Regions from separate parts of the Homo sapiens genome. Here all the other regions are linked to region 2. The links come from fine-mapping of genetic effects on gene expression. A gene starts in region 2. Each other region holds a variant in brackets. All regions are shown on one strand. Distances are between the middles of the regions. Region 1 has its middle 17 kb from the start of WEE1. Region 2 holds the start of SWAP70 (switching B cell complex subunit SWAP70). Region 3 overlaps SWAP70 (switching B cell complex subunit SWAP70). Region 4 has its middle 28 kb from the start of SWAP70.

Evidence for each region.
Region 1: its variant is fine-mapped to the expression of SWAP70 in T cells (TOPMed, PIP 0.98).
Region 3: its variant is fine-mapped to the expression of SWAP70 in whole blood (TOPMed, PIP above 0.99).
Region 4: its variant is fine-mapped to the expression of SWAP70 in whole blood (INTERVAL, PIP above 0.99).

Annotation. Positions count from the first base shown.
Region 1 is chr11:9,553,720-9,558,757 of GRCh38, forward strand. No RefSeq gene overlaps it. Among named protein-coding and RNA genes, the nearest start is that of WEE1, 17 kb to the right of the region's middle. The variant C/T (reference allele first, on the strand shown) is at 2,907.
Region 2 is chr11:9,661,257-9,666,294 of GRCh38, forward strand. It overlaps SWAP70 (switching B cell complex subunit SWAP70), which reads left to right and starts at 2,821. Exons shown (of 12, transcript NM_015055.4): 1 at 2,821-3,022. The coding sequence starts at 2,924. RefSeq lists enhancers at 1,999-2,198, 3,309-3,428 and a silencer at 2,669-3,168.
Region 3 is chr11:9,735,931-9,740,968 of GRCh38, forward strand. SWAP70 (switching B cell complex subunit SWAP70) reads left to right here. Exons shown (of 12, transcript NM_015055.4): 8 at 2,283-2,390; 9 at 4,251-4,417. Among named protein-coding and RNA genes, the nearest start is that of SBF2-AS1, 20 kb to the right of the region's middle. RefSeq lists an enhancer at 4,526-4,645. The variant G/A (reference allele first, on the strand shown) is at 2,441.
Region 4 is chr11:9,633,251-9,638,288 of GRCh38, forward strand. No RefSeq gene overlaps it. Among named protein-coding and RNA genes, the nearest start is that of SWAP70, 28 kb to the right of the region's middle. The variant G/C (reference allele first, on the strand shown) is at 2,625.

The DNA of each region.
Region 1 (5,038 bases), 110 kb before region 2:
TCCTATGCTGTGGGTTGTCTCTTCACTTTGCTGTTTCCTTTGCTGTGCAGAAGCTTTTAAACTTGATGTGATCTCATTTGTCCATTTTTGCTTTGGTTGCCTGTGCTTGTGGGGCATTATTCAAGAAACCTTTGCCCAGTCTAATGTCCTGGAGCGTTTCCTCAATATATTCTTTAGTAGTTTCATAGTTTGAGGTCTGAGATTTAAGTCGTTAATCCATTTTGATTTGAGTTTTGTATATAGTGAAAGACAGGGGTCTAGTTTCATTCTTCTGCATATGGATATCCAGTTTTCTCAGCACCATTTGTTGAAGACGCTGTCTTTTCTCCATTGTATGCTCTTGGCCCCTTTGTTGAGAAATGAGTTCACCTTAGATGTATGGATTTGTTTCTGGGTTCTCTATTCTGTTCCATTAGTCCATGTGTCTGCTTTTATGCCTGTACTATGCTGTTTTGGTTACCACAGTTCTGTAGTATAATTTGAAGTCAGGTAATGTGATTCCTCCAGTTTTTTTGTTTTTGTTTTTGTTTTTTTTCTCAGGATAGCTTTGGCTATTTTGGATCTTTTGCAGTTCCATATAAATTTTAGGATTGTGTTTTCTCTTTCTGTGGAGAATGTCTTTAGTATTTTGATAGGTATTGTATTGAATACATAGATTACTTTGGATAGTATGGACATTTTAACAATATGGATTCTTCCAATCCATGAACATGGACTATTTTTCCTTTTTTAATGTCCTCTTCAATTTCTTTCAATAATGTTTTATAGTTTTCATTGTAGAAATCTTCCACTTCTTTGGTTAAATTAATTCCTAGGTATGTTATTTTATTTGTAGCTATTGTAAATGGGATTACTTTTATGATTTTTCACATTGTTTACTGTTGGCATATAGAAACATTTTTTATTATTTTTTAATTTTTAATTTTAATTTTTAGTTAGTTATTTTTTGAGACGGAGTCTAGCTCTGTCACCAGGCTGGAGTGCAGTGGCGTGATCTCAGCTCACTGTAACCTCCGCCTCCCGGGTTCAAGCAATTTTCCTGCCTCAGCCTCCCAAGTAGCTGGGATTACAGGCACACACCGCCATCCCCAGCTAATTTTTGTACTTTTAGTAGAGATGGGGGTTTCACCACATTGGCCAGGATGGTCTTGATCTCCTGACCTCGTGATCTGCCCACCTCAGCCTCTGAAAGTGCTGGGATTACAGGCCGATTTTAAAATTTATTTTAATTTATTTTTTATTTTTTATTTTTTTGGGGGAGGATGAAGTCTTACTCTGTTGCCTAGGCTGGAGTGCAGTGGTGCGATCTCAGCTGACCGCAATCTCTGCCTCCCAGGTTCAAGTGATTCTCTTGCCTCGGCCTCCTGAGTAGCTGGGACTATAGGTGCGCACCACCATGCTTGGACAATTTTTGTATATTTAGTAGACACAGGGTTTCACCATGTTGGCCAGGCTGGTCTTGAACGCCTGACCTTGTGATCCACCCGCCTCTGCCTCCCAAAGTGCTGGGATTACAGGCTTGAGCCACCATGCCTGGCCTAGAAATGATTTTTATATGTTATGTTCTCTTTTTTTTTAACCCAATAATAGCTGTGTGTACTGATATATGTTGATTTTGCATGTTGACTTTTGTATATTGTTTTATTTCCTGCAAGTTTACTGAATTTGTATATCTGTTCTAATAATTTTTTAGTGGTGTCTTTAGGTTTTTCTAAATATAAGATCATATCATCTGCAAACAAGGATAATTTGATTTCTTCCTTTCCAATTTGGATGCCCTTTCTTTCTCTTTCTTGTCTGATTGCTCTAGCTGGGACTTCCAGTACCATGTTGCATAACAGTGATGAAAGTGGGCATCCTTGTCATGCTCTAGATCTTAGAAGAAAGACTTTCAGTTTTTCACCATTGAGTATGACACTAGCTGTGGGTCTGTCATGTAGGGCTATGTTGAAGTATGTTCTTATTTTTTTTTTTTTCCAGACAGAGTTTCACTCTTGTCACCGAGGCTGGAGTGCAATGGTGCAATCTCGGCTCACTGCAACCTCCGCCTCCTGGGTTCAAGTGATTCTCCTGCCTCAGCCTCCTGAGTAGCTGGGATCACAGGTGTGCGCCACCATGCTTGGCTAATTTTTTTGTATTTTTAGTAGAGATGGGGTTTCACCATGTTGGTCAGGCCGGTCTCGAATTCCTGACCTCAAGTGATCCACCTACCTTGGCCTCCCAAAGTGCTGGGATTTCAGGTGTGAGCCACCGCGCCCGGCCAAAACATGTTCCTTCTACACCCAGGTTTTTTTAGGGTTTTTATAATGAAGGGATGTTGAATTTTATCAAATGCTTTTTCAGTGTGAATTGAAATGATAGTATAGTTTTGTCCCTCATTCTGTAGATATGATGTATTGCATTGATTGATTTGCATATGACATCCTTGCATCCTTGCGTCCTTGCATCCCTGGGATAAATCTCACTTGGTCATGATGAATCATCTTTTTAATGTGTTGTTGAATTCAGTTTGCTATTAAGGTGAGTGCAAAACTATTGCAGTTTTTGCATTGTTGGAATTTGCCGTTTGATGTTGGAATACATTCTTCAATAAATGTGGTTAGGTCATACATCATTTTAATGGACATTTCTCGCTTTATGTTTTCTTGCTAATGACTTATTATTTGTTGTTTATTTTATGTTTATTTTAGACTACGGAAATTATGTTAGACAAAAAGCAAATTAGAGCAATTTTCTTATTTGGGTTCAAAATGGGTCATAAAGCAGCAAGAAAACTCATAACATCAATAAGGCATTTGGCCCAGGAACTGCTAATGAATGTACAGTACAGTGGTGGTTCAAGAAGTTTTGCAAAGGAGACAAGAGCCTTGAAGATGAGGAGTGTATGGCCAGCCATCAGAAGTTGA[C/T]AATGACCAATTGACAGCAATCATCAAAGCTGATCCTCTTACAACTACATGAGAAATTGCCAAAGAACTCCACCTCGACCATTCTATGGTCATGTGGCATTTGAAGCAAATTGAAAAGGTGAAAAAGGTGGGAAAAAAAGGTGAAAAAAAGGTGTCTTGATAAGTGGGTGCTTCATGAGCTGAGCAAAAATTTTAAAAAATGTTGTCTTGAAGTGTTGTTTTCTCTTATTCTATGCAATAACAGTGAACCATTTCTTGATCGGATTGTGACATGTGACAAAAAGTGGATTTTATACAACAACTGGTGACGACCAGCTTAGTGGTTGGACTGAGAAGAAGCTCCGAAGCACTTCCCAAAGCCAAACTTGCACCAAAAAAGGTCATGGCCACTGTTTGGTGGTCTGCTGCTGGTCTGATCCAGTATAGCTTTCTGAATCCTGGCAAAACCATTACATCTGAGAACTATGCTCAGCAAACGGACGAGATGCACCAAAAACTGCAACAACTGCAGCCAGCATTGGTCAACAGAAAGGGCCCAATTCTTCTCCAGGACAACACCCAAACACACGTCACACAACCAACGCTTCAAAAGTTGAGCAAATTGGGCTATGAAGTTTTGCCTCATCTGCCATACTCACCTGACCTCTCACCAACTGACTACCACTTCTACAAGCATCTCAACAACTTTTTGTACGGAAAACGCTTCCACAACCAGCAGGATGCAGAAAATGATTTCCAAGAGTTTGTTGAATCCTGAAGCATGGATTTTTACACCATAGGAATAAAGATTTCTCACTGGCAAAAATGTGTTGATTGTAATGTTTCCTGTTTTGATTAATAAAGATGTGTTTGAGCCTAGTTATAATGATTTAAAATTTACAGTCTGAAACCGCAATTACTTTTGCAGCAACCTAATAGTATTTGGTTGAGGATTTTTGCATCAATGTTCATCAGGGATATTGGCCTGTTGTTTTCTTTCTTTTTTCTTTTCTTTCTTTCTTTTTTTTTTTTTTTTTTGATGTGTCTTTGTCTGGTTTTGCTATCAGGGTAATAATGGCCTCATGGAATGAGTTTGAAAGTATTCCCTCCTCCTCAATTTTTTTGAATAGTTTGAGTAGGATTGGTATTAGTTATTTAAATGTTTGGTAAAATTCATCAGTGAAACTATTGAGCCCCAGGCTATTCTTTGCCAGCAGACTTTTTATTTTGGCTTTGAAATTGTTACTTACTATTGGTCTGTTAAAGTTTTGAATTTCTTCATGGTTCAACTCAGTAGGTTTCATGTATCTAGAAATTTATCTATTTTTTTCTAGGTTTTCCAATTTGTTGGCATATACTTACTCATAGTAGTACCTAAGATCCTTTGAATTTCTTGGTATCAGTTGTAACGTCTCCCTTTTCAAAACCTCTCATTTTATTTATTTCGGTCTTCTCTCTTTTTTTCTTAGTCTGGCTAAAGGTTTGTCATTTTGTTTATCTTTTCTTTCTTTCTTTTTTTTTTTGAGACGGAGTCTCGCTCTGTCACCCAGGCTGGAGTGCAGTGGCACGATCTTGGCTCACTGCAAGCCCCGCCTCCCAGGTTCACGCCATTCTCCTGCCTCAGCCTCCCGAGTAGCTGGGACTACAGGCGCCCACCACCAGGCCCAGCTAATTTTTTGTATTTTTTAGTAGAGACGGGGTTTCACCGTGGTTTCGATCTCCTGACCTTGTGATCCCCCCCACCTCAGCCTCCCAAAGTGCTGGGATTACAGGTGTGAGCCATCACGCCCGGCCTTATTTGTCTTTTCAAAAAATGATTTTTTTGTTTTCATCCTTTGTATTATTTGTTTCAATTTCATTTATTTCTGCTCTGGTCTTTATTATTTCTTTTCTTCTACTGACTTTGGGTTTGGTTTGTGCTTGCTTTTCTAGTTCTTTAAGAGACACCATTAGGTTGTTTACCTGAAGTTTGTATGTTTGTTCATTTGTTTGTTTGAGACAGAGTCTCACTCAGTCACCCAGGCCGGAGCGCAGTGGCCAATCTTGGCTCACTGCAACCTCCGCCTCCCAGGTCCAAGCAATTCGCATGCCTCAGCCGCCCAAGTAGCTGGGACTATAGACATGTGCCACCGTGCCTGGCTAATTTTTTTGGT
Region 2 (5,038 bases):
AGAGACATTGCAACTTCCATCTTTCTCTTTCTTGAATCAATTGAAAGCCAGCTGACGTGTTGTAAGGATACTCAAGCAGCCTGAGGACAGGCCCATATACAGAGGAACTGAGGCCTTCTGTAAACGACCCATCCATGTGAGTGAACCACCTTGGAAATAGATTTTCCAGCATCAGCCTAGCCTTCAAATGACTACAGCCCTATATTTTACTGCAACCTCCTGAGACACTTCAAGCCAGAACTATAGAGCTAAGTGGCTTCTAAATTCCTGACTTACAGAAAATATGAAATAATGTTTACTATAGTTTTAAGCTGCTAAATTTTGGGTTAATTGGTTACACAGCATTAGATTAATATAATCTGTTAGATTCTGAAGCACAACTCTTTACTTTTCTTTCTTTCTTATTTTCAATTTTTTTGTGGAGACGGGGTTTTGCTACATTGCCCAGGCTGGTCTTGAACTCCTGGCCTCAAGCAATCCTCCCACCCCAGTCTCTCAAAGTGTTGGGATTACAGGCAGGAGCCACTGCACCCAGGAAAAGCACAGCGCTTTCTATGACATCATGCTACTTTAAAATTTGTTTGGATAGGAAGGGCATGGTGGCTCACGCCTGTAATCCCAGCACTTTGGGAGGCCAAGGAGGGCAGCTCACTTGAGGCTGGGAGTTTGAGACCAACCTGGCCAACATGGCGAAACCCCATCTCTACTAAAAATAAAAAAATTAGCCGGGCGTGGTGGCTGGCGCCTGTAATCCCAGCTACTTGGGAGGTTGAGGCAGGAGAATCGCTTGAACCCGGGAGGCGGAGGTTGCAGTGAGCTGAGATCATACCGTTGCACTCCAGCCTGGGCAACAGAGTGAGACTCTGTCTCAAAAAAAAAAGAAAAGAAAAAAAAAGAAAAAAAATGCGTTTGGATTGTATGAATGAGGATGATGGGAGAAGTAGGAATTTGGAAGTCCACAATGTCCTGGTCTTGTCATAAAAAAAAGGCTTTGAAATATGTTTGGTACTTCCAGATACTGAGAGAGAAGAAGGGTCATATAGTGGTTAAACTGAACCTTGAGAATTAGGAGGTTTTCTTCGTTTCTTTTTTCTTCTTCTTCTTTTTTTTTTTTTTTTGCTACTCAGGGTAAGCTGACTTCGCATGAATAAATCAGAGGTTAAACCATGTGGTTTTGCTGACTGGCAGACTTGGGCTGGAAATGGGGAAGATAAATGATAGAAATTGGATTCTGGTAGGGCAAGAAAAGTCCTGACAAATGGTGATGAAATGGGGTAGAACCTTCAGGACAGTCACAGTGAGGGGCTGGCCACCCTTTTGCTCCTGCCCCTTCTTTCGTCAGTGGGGCCATCCTCTCCTCTTCCCCACCAGTTCCTTTTTGATCTCAAACTCACTGAAGAGGCTCCTTCTTGTTCTTCTCTTTCCAAATATCCCTTTCTTATGAAGATCTTTTCCTTTCTTAATAAGGCAAACATGTGCATTAAGGAACTTAAAAAAGCAAAACAAAACCAAACTTCATCTGAGAACCACCTCATTTTAAAAACTCTTGGTGTTTATTGTTCTCTCCAATTAGTCCAGGATTGGAGAGGAGAGGTACTGAGCCTGGCGATTTAATCAGACCTTAGTTAACCGGCAATAGTTATTATCCTAGGATGCTAGTACTGCAAGAACCCTTCCAGAACATCTGGTGCAACCCTGCTCTTTTTATACGGGATAATTTGAAGCCCAAAGAGATCAAGTGACCATTGTGACCACCGCGAACAGATATTAATTCAACAGCTGCAATCGAATACTTTTTTTTTTTTTTTTGAGACGGAGTTTCACTCTTGTTGCCCAGGCTGGAGTGCAATGGCGCGATCTTGGTTCACTGCAACCTCCGCCTACCGGGTTCAAGCGATTCTCCTGCCTCAGCCTCCCGAGTAGCTGAGATTACAGGCATGTGCCACCACGCCCGGCTAATTTTGTATTTTTAGTAGAGACGGGGTTTCTTCATGTTGGTCAGGCTGGTCTCGAACCCCCGACCTCAGGTGATCCGCCCGCCTTGGCCTCCCAAAGGGCTGGGATTACAGGCGTGAGCCACCACGCCTGGCCGAATACGTTCTTTTAAATGGTCCATCTCTTTGGATTAGTAAAATGGGTGGAGTGATTTGGAATTGGCCCAGATCTCCTATTCTGCAAGCAGAGAAACACTACAGAGAGGTATTACCCAGGTCAAACCCCTCCTAAGATGTGAATTGAACAACAGCTAGGCGTTAGGAAGAAAATGCTGCCTGACCCTGACTTCTAAACTCCCCTTAAACGTCGTCGCTGTGTCCCTAGAACCCAAGATAGAGTATGCATGAATAAACTTTTGCGAAATGAACCAACAAACTTCCCTCGAGGTCCTTCCTGCCTCCCCGCCGCCCTGCATCTCCCCGACTTGGGACTGCGCTATCATTTCAGTCCTGGTCTGGGGACTTTTCGGGGTCTTCTCTGGCCTTCTCAGACAGTGACTCCGTTCCCAGGACAGGACCAGGGATCCCTTTTTCACTGCGGGGCGCTGGGAGGAGGCGGGTAGGCTGCTCACCTAATCTCTCGGGTTTTTCCTCAAGACGCGGTCATTTGTGTGAGGTGTTGTACTCGAGCACCCAAAATGGCCCGAACTGGTCTGGGAAACATTAGGGAGATGTGTTTACCGTCCTGGCTGACACTGAAGGCCAAGCATTCTTGCCACCAGGCGTGGCTTGACTCGCAGAACCCACACTCTGGCGGCTGTGGGCGCGGCACTGGACCGGCGCCGGCAGCAGGGCGGGGCCTGGCGGGGGCGGGGCCTGGCGGGTCAGGTGACTGCGCGGCGGGCTGTGGCTGCGGAGGTTGAGGGGCGTCCGAGGCGCGGAGGGGCTGGCTGGGCAGGAGGGGTTGGCGGGGCAGCAGGGCCGCGGCCATGGGGAGCTTGAAGGAGGAGCTGCTCAAAGCCATCTGGCACGCCTTCACCGCACTCGACCAGGACCACAGCGGCAAGGTCTCCAAGTCCCAGCTCAAGGTGGGCGCCTCCTGACCCGGCCCCCCACCCGACCCTCCCCGGCGCGCTCTGTACTTCCCTTGGGTGGAAGCGGGACCTGGCGGGCCGTGACCGCAGGGCGGGGCGGGTCGGAATGCGCCCGGTAGGCCCGCTTGGGGCGGAGTGGGTCTGAGACCGGGATTTGGTGTTTACTGCCTCCCCCTTGCCTTCGGGCCATGCCCTCGGTTGGATGTGTTAGTTCCCGCGGGTCTCCCAGGGACTGGGAAGGGTGGCGGGCATAAGGCTGGGGTGAAGTCTGGAGGGCCAAGTGTGATTCCTTCTTGGCGTTGGAGAGCGGGGGGCAGAAAGTGGATTCTGAGGCGGCAATGGGAAGCTCCCTTACACAGCCTTCCCAGAATTTTCCTCTTACTCCAGGAGAGGAAGGGACTTGCCCAAGGTCGCTGGGCAGAACCTTCTGCAGCCCACAGCCCCACACCAGGACAGTCCTCAAAACGGCTAGCTGCCCCGGAGGCGACAGGGCAGTCCGGAGACGCAGAAATGCCCCGAAGCCCGGCCTCCAGGGTCCTTCTCCTTTGGGAGGCTTTTTGACTTGGGAAGACCTTCCGCCCAGCGTCTTTTAAGTTTGGAACTAGTGGACGGGGTGTACTGTGTCCCACAGGGACCTTAGTTCCGGGTGAGGAGCGCTGATCTTTCTGGCACCCTGCAAAAGCGACTGCTTTTTCAGAGTCGTTATTGTGACTGCCGGAGACCCTAGAGTATAGGGTATAAATAAAGGGATGCTTGTAAATTGAGTAACCCCAAGCAGCGAAATTGGCATTAAGCCAGCAGAAATTGGCAGCTTCTTCAAAGTAAAAAAATATAGAAACAGACAAGAAAAGCTATTCATAGGCATTTAAAAATATACATATTTTAGATCCGAATGTCCGGTTTTCTTAGCCCCTTCTGGGAATAAATTCTGAAGATTGGGTTTGTTTTGTATATTTTTGTACAGTAATCCCGTTCTTCTGAGTAGTGGCTTTTATGCCAGTAGGACTTAACATTCTCCTTGTCTTCCTTTTGCCTCTCCTTTCTTTTTCTCACTGATAGAATCATAGTCTGGAAGGGTCCATGGAGATCATCCACGTAATTTTTATTTTACTTCATTTTTAAATATTAACATACAGTAAAATTGACTTTTGGTGTACAGTTCTATAAATTTCAACATATGTATAGATTTATATAACTATCACCACAACCATGGCTTCCTCAGTTCCATCATCCTAAAAAACTCCCTGATGTTGCCCTGCCTCCACCCCAACTGTCGGCAACCATTGATCTTTCCTAATTGCTATAGTTTTACCTTTTCCGAAGTGCCATGTAAATGGAGTCATATAGTTTGTAACTGTTGAAACTGATTTCTTTTACCCAGCATAATGCCTTAGAGATTAATCCATTTTGTTGTGTGTACCAATAATTTTTTAAATTGCTAAGTAATATTCTATTGCATGGATGTATGGTAGTTTTTAGCCATGCATCTGTGAGAATTTGTGTTATTTCCAGTTCGGGGGAGTTATGAGTAGGTCTACATTTTACTTTTATTTTTACTTTTAACTTACCTATGCCATTTTATTTAAAGTAAGTTTTTAATAAATAGATGTAGCTGGGTCTTTTTTTTTATTCATTCTGACAATCTCTGTCTTTTAATTGGTATATTTAGGCCATTTACATTTAATGTAATTATTGATATGGTTTGATTTAGGGCTACCATTTTATTATAATTTGGTTTCTGCTTTTTTTTTTTCCTCTCTTTTTCTTCCATCTTTGGGATTATTTGAATATGCTTTAGTTTTTTGTTTTTTTTTTTTCTGAGACACAGTCTTGCCCTGTTGCCCAGGCTGGAGTGCGGTGGTGTGATCTCGGCTCACTGCAACGTCTGTCTCCTAGGTTCTAGAGATTCTCGTGCCTCAGCCTCCCAAGTAGCTGGGATTGCAGGTGTGCGTCACCACACCTAGCTAATTTTTGTATTTTTAGTAGAAACGGGGTTTCACCATGTTGGCC
Region 3 (5,038 bases), 75 kb after region 2:
GTTTTCAGCCACAAATATTTTTTCTACTTTTTTTTCCCTCTTCTGATACTTTCGTTATGCAAATGTTGGTGCACATAATGGTGTCCCACATTTCTCTAAGGCTGTGTTCATTTTTCTTCTTTTTTATTTTCTGTTTTCCAGTTGCATAATTTCTATAGATCTGTCTTTAGTAGATTTTTCTTGTAGCCCAAATATACTGTTGAGTCCCTCTAGTGAATTTTTCGTTTCAGTTATGGGACTTTTTACTTCCAGAATTTCCATTTGGTTTTTTCTGTGATTTATATCTCTTTATTATTCTCTATTTTATGGTATATTGTCATTCCTTCCATTACTTCTCTAAGTATGGTTTCCTTTAGTTATTTGAGCATAAAATATTTATAACTGCTTTGAAGTCTTCATATGCTAAATCCACCATCTGGGCCTCTTCAAAGGCAGTTTCCGTTGCCTGCTTTTTCCCTGTATATGGGCCATACTTTCCTTTTTCTTTGCATGTCTCATAATTTCTTGTAGAAAACTAGACATTTTAGATAATGTGTGGTAGCAACTCTGGATTCTGATTCCACCCCTCTCCCCAGAGGCCTGCTGTTGTTTGCTCCTTTATTTGTTTAGTGACTTGGCTGGACTATTTCAGTGAAGTTTGTTTTCCTCACAGTGTGAAGCTTCTGACTGTTGCTCCTCAGAGGCACAGGCTTGGACAGGAACACAGTCACCCTGCGAAGACCCTGATTTTTGCAGGGCTCTCTTTGAGTGTCTTTCTCTGATCTCTCATTTAAGCTTTCCACCTCTGTTGGTACCACACCAACAGCTGTTAGAGTTCACTAATTTTGTTCTGTTGTTCTCCATAATGCCCTGGAACCTGAATTGCCTCACAGTCTGAGATCATTTAAATTCAGGCCTACATGTAGTCTTTAAGGTCAGTCTTTGAGACTTGTTCCTACTACATGAGAACTCTTCTTAGCTGTCTCTTTCTCTGGTTCTGTCTGTCAGACGTTTGGCTGGTCTGGAAGAGCAGTGGCTCACACCTGTTAATCACTTTGGGAGGACAGGGTGGGAGGATCACTTGAGGCCAGGAATTTGAGACCAGCCTGGGCAACATAGCGAGACCTCATAGCAGTCAACCAACAAACCAACAACACTTTTAGCTGGTCCGTGTGTTAGTGTGTTGTTCTCATGGAGCTTCTGGCCTCCTCTTAATTCTCAGCCACTCTTGCCTGGAATAAAGTTTCTGCAACATGCAGCTGGGGACAAAGAGAAATTCTGGCAGCCAGCCTGCCCCTCCCAGGAAGGTATCATAGCCCTAGGCTTGAGCTGAGGGGAGGGGAACCCTTGTTTGGGGTTCCATCTGCCAGGAGAAGAGCTTTCTTCTCACTGACACTGTGGGGGTGGGGAGGGAGTGCATCATATGCCACAGACCCTCACGATTCTTACTGAGAGTTAGATTTTCTTAGATAAATGTTCTCCATTTTAGAATGTCCTTAGCATAATTTCTAGAGACTTTTAAAGGTTTTGTTTTTTTAACAATAATTTTCACCAGTTATGGTTGTTTTGTTGGGGAAAGGGTCTGTGGAGCTCCTTATGCCACCCTTCTAGAAATTGGTTCTGGTAAAAGTTATAATGAATAATGTATAAGATGAAAAAACTGTACAGAAAGAGCTCAAGAAATAGCTCTCAAATCTCATGAATGTGGCTGGGCATGGTGGCTTACACCTGTAATCCCAGCACTTCGGGAGGCTGAGGTGGGCGGATCACGAGGTCAAGAGATCGACACTATCCTGGCCAACATGATGAAACCCCGTGTCTACTAAAAATACAAAAATTAGCTGGATGTGGTGGTGTGTGCCTGTAGTCCCGGCTACTCGGGAGGCTGAGGCAGGAGAATCACTTGAACCTGGGAGGTGGAGGTTGCAGTGAGCCGAGATCGTGCCACTGCACTCCAGCCTGGCGACAGAGCAAGACTCAGTCTCAAATAAATAAATAAATAAATAAAAATCTCATGAATGCAATCCCAAGTGAATTTAATTCAATGACTGTACTAAAACTTTCTTTGCAAAATGTTGTTCAGGCTTATCAATAGTCTTTCATTTACCTAATTTATTTTGTATGTTGATTCAGCAGATCGTTAGACTGGAATTCTAATGGAGCTAAAAGTTTTTATTCTATTATCTTTATTGAATGTTAAGAATGTTTGGCTTTTCCTGTACTTAAGTATGACTGTCTCTCTCTCTTTAATGTACTTCTACTCTAACACCTGCTTTTCTGTGGATGGGTTTTTGATTGGCTAGAAACTGGAGGAAGCAGCATCTCGTGCAGCAGAAGAGGAAAAGAAACGCCTTCAGACTCAAGTGGAACTTCAGGCCAGGTTCAGCACAGAGCTGGAAAGAGAGAAGCTTGTGAGTATCACATGGCTGGAGAAAGCAGCTGCAGTAGCTCAGCCTGGGTC[G/A]GTGGGAACAGGGAAGGGCTGGAGGCTACAGTGAGGCATGTCATCAGCTTGGCTTTGCTACTGACCTGGAATGGGCTGTAGGGGAAGTTGCATGTTTGTTCATTCATTAATTATCTGTTTATTGAACACCTTCTATGTGCCAGGCAGTGTGCCAAAGATGTAATGGCAAAAGACATAAACCTTGTTTTCAAGACTCCTAAGTGGAAATTTATGGAGCCAGGCATGGTGGCCCACTCCTGTAATCCCAGCACTTTGGGAGGCCAAGGCATGAGAATTGCTTGAGCCCAGGAGTTCAAGACCAGCCTGGGCAATATCTACAAAAAAAAAAAAAAAAAAAAGAATTAGCCAGGCCTGTTGGTACATGCCTGTAGTTCCAGCTACTTAGGAGGCTGAGGTGGGAGGATTGCTTGAGCCCAGGAGTTCAAGGCTACTGTGAGCTGTGATTTTGCCACTGCACTCCAGCCTGGGTGACAGAGCAAGGCCCTGTCTCCAAAAAAGAAAAAAAAAGAAATTTGTGGAATGATGTGATAAATGCTTGGTTAGGGTGACTATATTTCCTGGTTTGCCTGGGAGAGTCCCTGCCATTCTGGTATAATTATTAATAACATTCCTTTTCATTCTCAAAACAGTTCTGATTTGGAAAATAAATAGTTATGGAAAAAGTAAGCATAGGTTCCATGGTATATCTCCTCTGTAATAAGCAAGGATGGCGGGGGTGAGATCCTGAAATTGTGAGAACATCTAGAGTCTGATTTGTTGCTCTTGGCAGCTCCGGTTCATCCTAGAGGCTTCCATCTTCAAGAGACCCAAGATCCAGGTTGTCTTAGGTAGTTAGCTGGTTAGCTGGAACACAGGTCTTCTCACATTGAGTGATACTCTGTCAGAGAGTGCTAAGCCCAGTGCCTAAATAGATGCATGTGACATTTCCTCTAGTCACTTTTTGTTATTTAGAGTTGAAAGAGATGTGTTTGTGGTTCAGAGAAAAGAGGAAGGCAAATGTGATGTAGAGAAACAGCCAGAATGTCTGGTCTTGTTTCCTCTCTGGTCCTTCTTACTGAACATTGGCTTTTTCTTCTTTAAGTTCAGGATTATCACATGCTCTCTCATGACTCTTCTGAAGACAGAGTGAGCTAATGCAAGTGAAAATATTTTATCAACTGCAGAGAAATAGGCTAATGTGTTTGTTATATTTAGGATGTTCTTGTCTTGTAATTTTTAAGGCAGGGATTCAAAACTCTGTAATCCAGAAGGGAAAAACCATTAACGTATACAGATTAACTGAAATGCTTGAGTTCCTCTAGGGCTGGAGGTGCCCCAGGGAGTGGAGACAGCCAGGGAAGTGTGGGAGGAATCCCATGCTGGATGACCTTTCCTTCTTCTTTAGTGTAACACTAAAGAAGACTGGGAAAAGGTTCGTTTGCTCTGACTGGGAAAAGGTTCGTTCCTTTTAGAGAAGACCCTATTGGTAAAAAGATTGTGACTTTAAGACAGAAAGGAATTTAGAGAGAAATTACACAAGGAAACATTTTTTTCTTGACTTGAGTCTTAAAATGTGGAGTGGAAGGGATGGAAAATACAGCAGGGCAGAACATAATTTGGGTTATAATTTGCTCTTCCCAGACTCTTTCACTATTGCGATTGGGTGTGGTACCCTCATCTCCTCCATCTTTAAGTTCAAGGATTGAAGGACAGGGTCCTGCCACCCTGATGGGCTGAGGCTGCAGCTGTGGGCAACCCCTCAGGTGGAGGTGAGGCTTTCCCTGAGAAAGAAGTCAACCTGCATTTAAACAAGACCCTTTTATACCAACAGATCAGACAGCAGATGGAAGAACAGGTTGCTCAAAAGTCCTCTGAACTGGAACAGTATTTACAGCGAGTACGGGAGCTGGAAGACATGTACCTAAAGCTGCAGGAGGCTCTTGAAGATGAGAGACAGGCCCGGCAAGATGAAGAGACAGTGCGGAAGCTTCAGGCCAGGTGCCAGATTTGTTTGCAGACTTTGCCTTTATGTACTTTGCCTGGGCTAATACAGTTTCTTGGAATGACTAACACTCTGGTGGAGAGGGAGAAGTGTCTCTGCTCTGGCTGTGACTGAGCTCGAGGTGCTGTCCAGATTAGAAAGACTGTGGAGACTCGACCGGCTGGAGTGTTTCTTTTCATTCTGAGGCGCTGGGAAACCCTTGCTTCTGGGGCTAAATAAGGGCCTATTTTAGAGCAGTCTGGTAGGTATGTTTGATGAGGTACCCTTAGTCTTATTCGAGAAAATCCACAAACCCAGAATTACCTCTGATAAGAGCTTGGCATCTTCAACACGCTCCAGACCAGAGAGGGCCATTGGTATGCAGGCAGAGGCCTGTTCAGGCCAACGTTGCCGTCAGGTTTTGAGGAATAAGGAAGAAATATGCAGTTTCTATTTGGTCATTCAGGATTGGTAACATTCCTTCAGTAATTACTACTTGAAATCCTAATTTTAAAAGTATTTGAAACCTAGATTTTTTTTCCCCTTAGAACTTTATGATAGTCATGTTCGCAGATGAAAATTCTCAATTTTGGGCCTTCATGGCAGCAGGGAGGACAAAATAAAATGAAGACTCCCAA
Region 4 (5,038 bases), 28 kb before region 2:
AATTTCCCTGTAGTTATTTTTATTAAAGTTTCTCATCTATTTTTCTTATTATTTATAATAACTATTTATTTGATTATTTTGGGTTTTCCAGATCTATCTTATTTTTAACCAGCCACTTTGAGTTGGTCTTCTTTTTTTAAGAAGCCAATACTTACTTAGACTTATCCGTATGAATACCTATTTGTGCTATTACTTCAGGTATTTGGGGTTCAATTTTCTTTGTGCTGACAAATATTTTTAATCATTATTTCAGGAAGAAACTGGGTGGTTTGTATGTTGGAAATTATCTGTATTTGCCTCTCCTTCTTTAATGCTAGTTTAGCTGGGTAGAATTTCAGTTTGACAATTATTTTCCATCAGTAATTTAAAAGCTATTTCTTTGTCTTTGGGCATCTATTGTTGAAGAGTAGCTTGCAGTGGTTTGTTATTCTTCTGTAAGTAGTCTGTCTTTTTCTACTGGTTATTTTTATGATATTAGGTTCTTATATTTGATGTTTTCCAAAGCTATCACACTGGCTGGACATGACTTTATTCGTATTTTGCTCAGTATCTATGGCCTGCACCTGCTAGATTATGTGGGTTCATGTCCCATTGGTGTAGAAACAGACTTGAGGTTCCTGTTTTTCATAGCTGATTCTTTTCCTCCCTGTGGTCTAGGCCAATGGCAAGCTTTCTTGTTCCTTCCCCAAATTGGTAAGTAGAGTTTTTCTTTTCTCCTGTGGGGAGCAAATAAAATCTTTATTCCAACTTCAGATCTCGTCAGGGCTCAAGGCCTCATTTCCTGCTGCCATGCCAAGACCTATTCTGTCTTAGCTTCAGATTCTCTTTACTGTGGTAGCTTTGGGTTCCCTTTTGATTTGTGGCACCTGGGAATGTCTCTTTCTTACTTTCAATCTCAGATATATCTTTAGGGATTTTATCGTGAAGGGATGTTGAATTTTATCAAATGTTTTTTCAGTATTGCTTGAAATGATCATATGGTTCTAATCCTTCATTCTGTTGATATGATGTATCACATTGATTGATTTGCACATGTTGAACCATCTTTGCATCCCATGGATAAATCCCACTTGGTCATGATGAATGATCTTTCTAATCTATTGCTGAATTCAGTTTGCTATGATTTTGTTGAGGATTTTTGCATTAATATTCATCAGAGATATTGGCCTGTAATTTTCTTTTTTTAATGTGCCTTTGTCTGGCTTTGGTATCAGGGTGATACTGGCATTGTAGAATGAGTTTGACAGTATTCTCTTCTCCTCTATTTTTTCGGAATAGTTTGAGTAGGATTGGTATTATTTCTTTAAATGTTTGGTAGAATTCAGCAGTGATGCCATTGGGTCCCAGGCTGTCTTTTACTGGAAGATTTTTCATTACTGCTTTGATCTTGTTACTCGTTATTGTTCTGTTCAGGGTTTGGATTTCTTCCTGGTTTAATCTTGGTAGGTTGTATGTGTCTAGGAATTTTTCCATTTCTTCTAGATTTTCCAATTTACTGGCATATAGTTGTTCATAGTAGCCACCAATGATCCTCCGAATTTCTGCAGTATCAATTGTAATGTCTCCTTTTTCATTGCTGATTCTATTTATTTGGATCTTCTCTCTCTCCCTTTCTCTGTTTTATTTTGAGATAGTGTCTCGCTTGGTTGCCCAGCTGGAGTGCAGTGGTGCAATCTCGGCTCACTGCAGCCTCAGTCTCCTGGGCCCAATCAATTCTCCTACATCAGCCTCTGGTTAGCTGGGATTACAGGTATGTGCCACGACTCCCAGCTAATTTTTTATTTTTTTGTAGAGACGAGGTTTCACCATTTTGCCCAGGCTGGTCTCGAACTCCTGGCTCAAGTAATCCGCGCACCTTAGCTTCCCAAAGTGTTGGGCTTACAGGCACGAGCCACTGCACCTGGGCCTTCTCTCTTTTTTTCTTAGTTTGGCTATCATATATGTCTCTAAAAATTACTCAGCATTTCTATTTGTGTGAGAGATGATTCCTGCCTCAGTTCAGTCAGCTTGTCTGATTTTGAGACACTATTTTGGGCTGGGAGTGGTAGCTCATGTCTGTAATCCCAGCACTTTGGGAGGCCAAGGCGGGTAGATTGCTTGAGCCCAGGAGTTCAAGGCTAGCCTGGGCAACATGGCAAAACCCTGTCTCTACCAATAAAATACAAAAGTTGGATGTGGTGGCATATACCTGCAGTCCCAGCTACTCAGGAGGCTGAGGTGGGAAGATCGCTTGAGCCCTGGAGGTAGACGCTGTAGTGAGCTGTAATCATGTCACTGTACTCTAGCCTGGGTGACAGAGCAAGACCCTGTGTTAAAAAAAGAAAAGAAAAAGAAAAGAAGACACTATTTTGGAACTAAAAGCCAAGAATTTGACTTTTTTTCCTGAGTGGGTTCTTTCGAATTCTCTTTACTGGGTCAATAGCCTCATCCCCAAGATATAGGGCAACTAAGCTAGCCAAAATTGAGTATCAGTCACTTGCAGCCAATCTTTAATACAGTGGGGTCTGAGAATTTCTGGCCTTCAGGATAAAGTTCAAGTCCTCCAAACTTTCTGCCCCAAGTATGTTTCTAACTCAGTTTCCTACTTTCCTCTCTTATCTACCCAATGCTTTAGAGAAACCAAA[G/C]GTGCTTGTTATTTTCTGTGTACCTCTGAGCTTTCTCATATCCATGTCCTTGCATATAATGTGCTCTTTTCTGTTTGTTTGTTTTGAGATGGAGTCTCGCTGTTGCCCAGGCTGGAGTGCAGTGGGGCGATCTCGGCTCACTGCAACCTCCGCCTCCAGAGTTCAAGTGATTCTTCTGCCTCAGCCTCCCAAGTAGCTGGGACTGTAGGCGCGTGCCACCACGCCTGGCTAATTTTTTGTATTTTTTTTAGTAGAGACGGGGTTTCACCACGTTTGCCAGGCTGGTCTCGGACTCCTGACCTCGTGTTTCGCCTGCCTCGGCCTCCCAAAGTGCTGGGATTACAGGCGTGAGCCACCACACCTGGCCCTATGTCTTTGCGTATGATGCGCTCTTTACCCAGGTACTTTTTTTTCCCCAGGTGACTGGGTCTCGTTCTGTCACCCAGTCAGGAGTGCAGTGGCATGATCCTAACTCACTGCAGCCTCAAACTCCTGGGCTCACACAATCCTCCTGCCACAGCCTCCCAAGTAACTAACCATACACTTTTGGCATTACTGCAGGCCAAATCCAACACGTCTTTCAAAGTCCAGCTCAATGGGTGCTGCTATGAAGCCTGACTAATCTTCTCAGCTTAAAGTTTTGTGTGCTTCCTCTGTATTTCTGCGATTGAAGAAGTCCACTGCAGTGTAAAGGACTCAAGCTGTGAATTGATATCAGGACTTAGGGGCTCAGGACCTGGCTCTGTTACTCCTTAGCTGCCTCTTTTTACCTATCTCAGCTTCAGTTATTATCTAAAACAGATGGAAATATTTCCCTCACAGAATTAAAGTCACTTTTATGACCATTTTGGTTTTGAGTGAAGGAAAATCCATCCTGAAGAGGGCATAGATTGGTTTATATAGGTGAAAAGTCCAGGGGTAGAGATGGCTTCAGGCATGGGGTGGACTCAAAGCTCAAATGCTATCAGCAGGAGTCTGACTATCTTCTCTAAGAGCTGCCTTTTGCTCTGTCACCTTTATGCCCAGGTTCAAAGAGTAGCCTGATGGCTGGCAGCACTCTTAGAACCCAATCTTTCTGCTTCAAGTCCAGCTGACTAGCTTGAGAACATCTTTCTCAAGTCACAACAAAGTTATCACGGACTCTCATTGGGTCATGTGCCCATCCCTGAGGTGGTCACTATGGCCAGGAGAATTTGATGCTTGGATTGCCTAGGGCCCAGGGGACTTGTTCTACCTCAGACCCTGGGGTGCATCCCTGGCAGCAACACATGGGATGAGTGTGGGTGGGTGGAGTTTCTGCAATGAGAAGTTAGGGTGCATTTCCAGCATGGTGAAAGGATGCTAGATGAGAATAACTGCAGAGCTCCACCATAGTTGTGCTGGGGATCAAGTGAGACAATATGAGGAAACTGACTTCGAAAGTCCTGATCAGGCTAGGCGTGGTTATACCAGCACTTTGGGAGGTCAAGGCAGGGAGATTGCTTGAGGCCAGGAGTTCGAGACCAGCCTGGGCAACGTGTCAAGACCCTGTCTCTACCAAAAAACAAAACAAAACAAAAACCAAATTAGCCAGGTGTGGTGACATGTGCCTATAGTCCTAGCTACTCAGGAGGCTGAGGTGGGAGGATTGCTTGAGCCCAGGAGTTCGAGGTTGTAGTGAGCTATGGTGGTGCCATTGCACTCCAGCATGGTGACAGAGAGAGACCCTATCTCAAAAAAACAAAAAAGAAGTCCTGTTCAAACATAAATGATTATTATTATTTGGTTATGTTTCTCTGTGGCACTTAGCACTTTTTTCCTTCTAGCCAGAGTTACCCACTTCATAGTTTAATCTTCCCTACTCCACCCTGAGCAGCTGGAGAGCACGGTCTGTGTTCTAGTAATCTCTAGAGGATTCCACCATTTCAACTCAGCACCCAGAAAATATAAGGTACCCAATAGATGATTGTGGAATAACTTGATTAGTCTGAAATCCAAAGCATTGCGCCCAGAGTTCTGTTAATCCCTAGGCCAAAATCTCAAAAGGCTTTCAAGAACTTGAACCTTTCCCTGGAATCATAGCTAAATAAGCTCTGGCCTTTTTCATAGTGGGTGGGGTGAGATAAATAATTTCAGGAAGATGTGTCCTTGCATTGATTTGTTCACCTGGCCAACCTAAGGCCATCCAGAGAAAGAAAAGTCTTGGTTTGTTTATTTTCTGTTTATTTATTAAATTTCTGGTTTATTTTGCTCTTACTGCCCTCGTTAAATGGTGTGGGCTTCAGGAAAGTGCAGACTGAATGAAGTAACTTCCCGAAGGCGCTGACCTGCAGGGCAGGTTTGGGGCTCCCTCCTGGTCCAGGAGGCCTAAGCGTCCAGGAAGTTTTGAGTTTAATGAAAGGAATTGGTGATCAGTTCTAGTCAAACATCTGGGA